2 linked regions of the Homo sapiens genome follow. The gene in region 2 interacts genetically with the main gene of each other region. Each region holds a gene or a part of one and is shown on either strand. Other genes may lie near its edges.

The links.
Region 1: of MCOLN3 (region 2) and PTP4A3, changing one suppresses a phenotype caused by changing the other (phenotypic suppression), as found in Homo sapiens cells (one study listed by BioGRID).

Annotation. Positions count from the first base shown.
Region 1 is NC_000008.11:141,426,506-141,430,020, reverse strand, and holds part of PTP4A3 (protein tyrosine phosphatase type IVA 3), read right to left. Parts: intron 3,083-3,515; coding exon 2,952-3,082; intron 2,272-2,951; coding exon 2,197-2,271; intron 1-2,196. UniProt on the Homo sapiens protein: Protein tyrosine phosphatase which stimulates progression from G1 into S phase during mitosis. Enhances cell proliferation, cell motility and invasive activity, and promotes cancer metastasis.
Region 2 is NC_000001.11:85,045,435-85,049,948, reverse strand, and holds the start of MCOLN3 (mucolipin-3), read left to right. Parts: upstream 1-1,448; 5' UTR 1,449-1,553; intron 1,554-1,683; exon of another isoform or gene 1,684-1,691; coding exon of another isoform or gene 1,692-1,761; intron 1,762-2,339; exon of another isoform or gene 2,340-2,374; intron 2,375-4,514. UniProt on the Homo sapiens protein: Nonselective cation channel probably playing a role in the regulation of membrane trafficking events. Acts as a Ca(2+)-permeable cation channel with inwardly rectifying activity.

The sequences.
Region 1 (3,515 bases), on a different chromosome or scaffold from region 2:
GACTGTGCGCTCACCCTGTCCCCGCCACCTGGTCCTTACAGCGGGGACGTGGGCTGTGCGCTCACCCTGTCCCCGCCACCAGGTCCTTACAGCGGGGACCCGGACTGTGCGCTCACCCTGTCCCCGCCACCTGGTCCTTACAGCGGGGACCCGGACTGTGCGCTCACCCTGTCCCCGCCACCTGGTCCTTACAGCGGGGACCCGGACTGTGCGCTCACCCTGTCCCCGCCACCTGGTCCTTACAGCGGGGACCCGGACTGTGCGCTCACCCTGTCCCCGCCACCTGGTCCTTACAGCGGGGACCCGGACTGTGCGCTCACCCTGTCCCCGCCACCTGGTCCTTACAGCGGGGACTGGACTGTGTGCTCACCCTGTCCCCGCCACCTGGTCCTTACAGCGGGGACGTGGGCTGTGCGCTTACCCTGTCCCCGCCACCGGGTCCTTACAGCAGAAACCTGGGCTGTACACTCACCCTGCTCCCGCCACCTGGTCCTTACAGCAGGGACCTGGGCTATGTGCTCACCCTGCCCCGCCACCTGGTCCTTGACCACATGTACCTGGCTGGGGTGAACAGGAAGACTTCCTGGAGAGGATGCTGCAGCCACACCTGAGAGGCCCTGAGGTGACAGGCGTTGAGGGGCGGGGGCTGCCCACCCAGCGCCTCTGGAGGCTCATCCATCCCCACCTGCCATGACCTCAGGCGTGGCCACAGGCTGGCCCTGGCCAAGGAAGTGGGAGCAGCAGTAGCGCGAGGAGTCTCTGCCCAGCAAAGCTGCAGGTGCCCCGTGTGGCTCCACCGTGCTCGTTTCCTCGCCCAGCAGCCGGCACACTGGGGAAGGCGCAGCCCTCAGCCACGCCTCCGGGTAGGGCCCCCACCAACAGACACGCAACAGGGGCAAGAAACGCCCGTGCTGTTCTGAGTCGTTGGGGTTCAGGCCTGGCTGTTTCCGCAGCATGGCCCAACCTGTCCTGACCAGCGCAGCCTCAGGTGCGGGGAGCCACACAGCAAAAGCCACAAGGGAGAGACAAGCCCTTGCTCGGTGAGACGTGGGGTGGGGAGAGAACCCGGGGAAGGTGTGCACCCGCATGTGTGAGAGTGCATGTCATGTATGAGTGCACACGTGTGTACATGCCTGAGTGCATCCATGTGTGTCCATGTGTGCAAATACCCGCTTGTCTGTATGTGCCTGTGTTCACACACCTGCCTGTGAGTGTGTGCCTGCGTATGCCTGGGTCTGTGTGGGCACACATGTGCTTGTGAATGTGTGCCTGTATGACCCCCATGCGTGTCTGTGTGTGAGCGTGCACATCCCATGGTCCCCAGGGAGACCTGAGCACCTGCAGGCCACGCTCTCGCACAGACCCACAGGGCGGGCCACGCTCTCGCAGACCCACAGGGCGGGCCACACTCTCACACAGACCCACAGGGCCAGCTGGCATGGCTGGGAACAAGCCTGCCTCTGGGAGGAAGAGATGGCCCCACCAGCCAAGCCTGTCCGAGGAGTACCACAGGTGTGTCACACTCACGGGCACACACATGGTGGGCTGGGCAGGGGCAGGCTTCAGGTGCCGCATCCGTTCCTCCAGAGTTGGCCCTGCCATCCCGGCCAGACTCCCCCAGGACCCCCTGGGCAGTGGGCAGATGGCAGCCCTCCCCAGGGAGGCCACCAAGTGACAGGGATGGGGCAGGCGAGCTGGCCTAGAAGCCTCTAAGGAGGGCGGGGAGGGGCTGAGCTGGAGAGCTCGGGGTTGGGGGGAGGGGTGGTGAGCAGCTAGACTCAGAGTAGTCCTGAGACACTAGCCCACTGTCAGCGTCCCTGGGGGTGGACACGGTGTGGTGTGGGGTTTCAGGTTCTAGTTTTTCATGGAGGGACTGAACTGGCTGGCTCTGGGGGTCCTTCCACCCCCGTCAGGATGGCTGCGACAGAAGGAGCTCTGTCTGTGGAGGGCGGGCAGGACGGCGTGGCGGGTGGCCTCGCTGTGTCCCTGTGTGGCTGCATGGTCACTCGGGGGCTGCTGTCCCCACCCATCAGAAACACCTCAGGCTTCCCCGTTTCTGCAGCAAGGCCCAGCTTGTGCTGATCGACGCAGCCTCAGAGCGACGGAACCACACAGCCAATGCCGCCACCCTTCGTGGGCAGCCGGATCTCCCCTCCCCCAGCGCTCACAGCCCACCCCACCACCGCGGCCACTCACTGGCGGATGAACTGGATGGCGTCCTCGTACTTCATCCCGCTCTCAATAAGGGCCAGCGCCACAAGGACTGGAGCCCTGGGGGCAAACAGCAGGGCGGGGGTCATCGGAGCCTGCGCACCCCTGTCCCCTTGGCAGGGCACCTGCTGAAGATGCAGGGCACGGGGGCCCAAGGGGCCCAGAATCCCCCCTGCCTGAAGCTCCCCCATGGAGGCCACAGCCTCACAGCCCAGCCTGAGCACTGGGTCTAAATCCTGGCTCCCTCCTAGGCAACCTCTCTGTGATCTGCTGGGGGAGGGTTAAATAAGAGCTGGCGGGTGAAGTGCTAAGAGCCGGATCCATGCCTGCTATCAACTCTGCTCGCCTGGGTCTCCCTCTGCAGATGGGGGTGTCCCACTGGTCATGTCATCCGATCCCAGCTGCCATTCTTCCTCCCGTTCTCCCAGCAGGGAGTCTGAGGCCCCAGCTGTGTGTGGGGGGATCTTTGTGTCTGGAGAGGGGGACGGCAGCCCTTTCCTACACAAGATGTCAGGATGGTTTCAACCATAGCAGGAAGAAGTTGGGTTAGACTTTGGGAAGCACTTCCTCTCTGTGATGCTGGGAGAGGACCAGTCTGGGAGCCCCAGCACTAGGGGCATGGGCCTCCTGGGAAGGTCGCGTGGACGTGTGTTCAAGACCCACATCCAAAAGCGAGGCTGTCAGACCACGAGATGCCCAACCACCTGACATGGCGAGCCCTACCCCGCCCCGACACTCACCGGCCCAGGCCCGCCACGCAGTGCACAGCCACGCAGCTGCCGGGGGCCTCACAGAACTTGGCCTTCACCAGGCTCAGCCAGTCTTCCACTACCTTGCCGGGCGGGGGCGCCCCATCGTCAAACGGCCAGTCCTACGGAGGGAAGCAGACATGAGGACCCCCGGCTGAGGGAGGGTAGAGAGGCGGCTCTGGGGCTCAGGCGAGGAAAGGGAGCTCTGAGAGGCAGAGGGTGCCAGGAGCCCACTAGGGTGGGGGCAGCAGACCCAGAGGGCACACAGGAGGGGCACAGCTTGCCTATGGGCACCCCATGGTGAGTGCTTCAGACTCCTCATCATTCCCTGTACACTGCAGCTATCCCCTCCTCCAGGAAGCCTTCCTGGACCACCCCACCCCTTTCTGAATAGAGCCTGCTCCAGAGTCGCACAAATCCTAATCCCCACACCTGTCAGCCCGAGCTCTGGTTCTGGGGTCACAATCCCTCACGCCTGTGTGCCGGTGGCAGCCTGAGAGGTTTTGGGTCGGCTGGTGCAAAGGGTCTCATCCCCTGTGCTGGCATGCAAAGATG
Region 2 (4,514 bases):
TCATTTTGTAAGCTCAGGGCTGCCTCCTCTGTCTGTAATGGAGCAGCCGGCAGGTTGAATAAAGGCTTGCCTGAACTTGGGTCTCGGTCTCTCTCGGTCTCTCTCTCCCTCTCTCTCTCTCTCTCTCGTCCTTTCTCTCGGCTAACTTCACAGATTGCACATAAAAAAGAAAAGGGGTTCAGAGAAGGTAAGTAACTCCCTAGAGACCAATAAGTGGCACAGAAGGGAATTTGGGCCCTCATCTGTCTGACTCCAAAACCTGGCTTTATCTATTCACCGGTCCTTATAACTCAGCTAAAACGAGGGTTAAGCAAGTGCCATCATTTATGACTGTGAACCTCTTCAAAGTTCAGATTGTTCCTGAACAATCAAGCATTTCAAACTCTTACCATCAAGTAAGGAGATAGCGTTACATCGTGTGTAGGCATATGGGGATTAAAGATTACATTATATTTTCCAAATTGCACTTGAGAATTGACTGTGCCAATTATATCCTTTCTGGGTATCTACCTTGTTCACAGTATGTGGGATCCAGGTTGAGGAACAGCATAAAATTCTTGTACCCTGTTGCAAAAATTTATTAGTAATCCATGCATACTGGTTTAGGATTTGAAAACAGGTTTTATAAAAGGTTTGCTAGGTATCGATCTAATTTCAGGAATACCCTAGTAGGGAAATTCAGTGACCTTTACAAATTTACCCGTGGCCAAAAAAAAAAAATAAGTAAAAATTAAAAATCAGAACACATCCAAAGTAATTATAATTAAAATTAACCAAAGTTCCTGATCCAATCCTGATAAGGGGTATTAGGTTTAATATTTACAGATAATTTATGAAGAAAAAGATTACGGTTCAAAGTCTACTTCAGGTATTTCTATTTACATTTCTTGGAAAAGTTTCCCAGGGCTCTTTCTGCCCCAGCCGCCAATCTACAGAAGAGTCTAGTCGACTGTCCACTCATTTCACAGCACTTGTCTGAAACTAGAAGACCCAGGGAGGGAACAAGGTTCAGGCTTGAAACGCTAAGACATTCAAGATTTCACCTTGTATGCAAAAATCAGAATGGGAGGCTGCAGCGGGGCCTCACACTCACCGGAGCTAGGCGCTATAGATCCCGCACCCGCGGAGCCCGGCAACCACCTGAGGGGCCTTGGCCAGGAGGGGGTGGCCCCCCGGCGCCGGCGGCAGCTCCGGAGCAAACCTGGCAAACCCGAGCAGGGCGGTGCGGGTTGCTCAGGGAGAAAATGAAGGGAGTGATAGGGTGGGGGTGGCAGGGAACGGGCACAACGCCGGCTTCCTCCGGACGGCCTCCTGCGTCCCACCTGTGCTCCTGAAAAGCGGCCCCCGACAGGGCGCGGCGGGAACCCGAGCCGGGAGTAGGGTCACGAGTTAAAGCGGCGGGGGCGGGAGGATGCGCGGGCGGCGGACGGGGCGCTCTCCTCCCGTCTGACTCTGGGCGGAGCGGGGCTCGAGGCTGCTGGAGTCGCTCGCTGACTCGCCCTGCGCCCTCGCCGCGGACACCGGAGCTGCGGCCGCTCCCCGCTGTCCCCCAGGTGAGCCCGCGGGGCGCTGCCCCGGGGCGTCGGGTGTCGCGGGAACGGCGCCCGCGGCGCACAGGGAGGGCCGGGGAGGCCGGGAGGCAGCGAGCTGTCGGGGACGCCGCGGGAAGGCCGGGCCGGGCAGTCGGCGCCATGGAGGGCAGGCGGGCTGGAGCTGGGCGCGAGATGCAGCTGTTCCGCGCCGCCCCCAAGCCGCCCGCAGGTCAGTGGAGGAGCGCGCCTGCCGGGCCTGCCCGGGGCTGGGCGGGTGGGGGTGCTCTGCTCCTCGGTCCCCCTCCAGGCCGCCGCCCACCTGTGGCCAGGGCTCAGAGGGCTGGAAGCCACCCCCGCCCGGAGCCCCTGGGCTGGAAGGCTTGGATGCCGGCCGGGGCTCCAGATGGCCTTGACGCGGCTCGGCTGGCCCCTTTCAAGGCGGACTGTCCCCCTGTTAGAGGTGGGGGCGGCTGGAAGTGGGGGCTCAGGCCCGGGTCGCTGCGCTGGCTGAAAGCAGCCGCCAGCCGGGCTGCGGCCGTCTGAGCTCCACGGCAGTGCCCGGGGATGGCAGCGACCGCTCTGGGACATCGCTGCAACCCTGCAGATCTTTCTCGCACACACTACCCAACAAAAGTGTCAACCCTTGTTGTTTGTTTGTTTGAAAAAAAAAGAAGACTGGAGAGACTAAAGTTTTGTGTCTGGTGAAGTGGGAAAGCGCTTCTGAAAAAACGAGGTTGCATAACTTTGTCGCCAACTGGGAGGCCTTTGCTATTTATACACTCCCGGGCTTTCTCCAATTTTCTACAGCTTACTCCAATCAAGCCTCTGCCCGCCAGGAACAGGTAACCTGTGTGTGTCCGTTTGCTCCTTCTAAGAGCATGCCTGATAGATACTTCGGTAGCCTCTCCGGATGGCCCCTTCGTCGGGTAGCCTCTCCTGATGGGGTCCTTCGCCCACCCTGCCTCCCGCGCCGGCGCTCCGGGTGAATGTCAAGGGTGGCTGGCTGCGAATACCTCCTTCAGCTGCTGGGGTTCCCGACAGTTTGCAGTTTTTAAAAGTGCACCCTCGGAAGGGCTTTTCAGACTGGGTAAACCTGACTTTTCCAAGGTCAGCATCTGGTCCTGGTGAATGAAATGTCTACCGGGACAACTCGTTGTGATGTGCTGAATATATGCTGGTTGGCTTGTTTTCTCTTTGTTCCTGTGGATTACTGTACATGGTGTGTGGCTAGTTTGTTTAAAATTTAATTTTCCCTGTATCAAAGTGGAAAGCGCTTAGTGTCAATATACAACTCACCAACATGCTTATTAACAGCTTCATCATTATGTTGGTGTTCATATGCGAGCTTTGGTCAACATGAAATCATCTGCGTTTTAAGTCCTATAGATAAAGTCTCCTTAAATGCTGGTTAAAATATCCTGCCTTTTTGAAGGAAGTAAAACTGTTAAGTGAAAATCCTAATTTATTAATAACTTTTTCTTTCCTTTATGCCTTTACCTAAGAATTACTGCATTTATGCTTTGACAGGCATTTTAACACGCACACAGGAGCCACACTTTAATGAGTTATATAATAATTATTTCATTTTGAAGGTACTGCATTTGCCATACAGTAAATATGTTTTATGGTTTATTCATCCAGCAGTATCCTTATTAATCTTTTCATTAACAAGAGTTTAAGAACCTTCCCCATGCTATTCTTTATAGCCAGTATCTATTGTTCGGAGATGTTGGGCTTCCTAAGAATGCTTGAATTGGAATCAAAAGTGGGGTTCTAGACTTGGAAAGCAGCATGGTATCTAACCAGTGACTTGTAAGATATTGTATGAATGCAGGTTACAATTTTCCTTCTTCATTGCTGAGTACAAGTTATTATTAAAATGTCAAATAAAGCCTGCCTTTCTATTCCGTATGGAAGGACGCTACTCATTGTTTGGGGTATTTTACTTTGAACAGGTTTCCATAGTATAATATCAATCTTAGTCTGAGGGAAAATCCAAGATCCATCCCAGTCTCTAGAGTGACTTCTCCGTCACTTTGAAAAAACTGATTCTGAAGACAATAAAACCAGCCCGACCCAACCCTTTTCAAACGTACCTGCCCCCCCCCCCAAATAGATATGAAGTACTTTGAAAATATGCTATAAATATAAGGCCTTCAATAAAAAGTCATTACAAGCGATGCCACAGACTGGGAATTAGGCTTAAATTGAGGGCCCATTTTCCCCTTTGTACAACAGTTATGTTTCCTGAGGCTCATACTGCCCCTTAAGAACCTTACTGGCTTTCTAGGAAGCCACCCTGTCTGCTGTGGGTGTTAGGTAGGTGAGTCTGCTTAGCGCTAGACCCTATGCAAAGGCTTTGTTTACTGTTTTATTTAATGCTCTCTACACTCATAACTATTTAATTCTGGCTACAATCATAGAAGGGTAGGTGTAGTTATTCCCATTTTGCTGGAGAGGAAACTGAGGCTCAGAAGGGCTAAGTGATTTCCCTGAGATTGCAGAAACGTCAAGTCATGGAACCAGGATTAGAAACCAAACTGAATCTTGTTCTTTACACTACACCCTGCTATCTTTAACTCGGTGGTTTTAAACATTTTTTGATAATCTGTGAAAGTTTTAGTTACCTCCCAGGAAAAAGTGTCCACAGCCACATATATGAAAGTTTTCATATAACTTCAAGGCCCACCTACCCTCTGAAGTCCTTCCCCCAGGTCCTCAGGTCTCTGATCCTCTAACTATACTGAGTGAGGCAGAAAACATATACATCCTATATATATGTACATATAATCTTTTACTAATGGGAGCAGCCCTTGAATTTGGTAACTTTGAACTAGGTGAAAATTCACTTTGTAATTAAAACAAATAAAAAAGTGACGTCCTACATTGGAACTGATTCTGTAAACATCTAAAATGCAGTTTAGAGCAATGGTGCTTATTTGAAACCAGGACTTCTGTATGGGCTTCTCCTTGCAATATTAA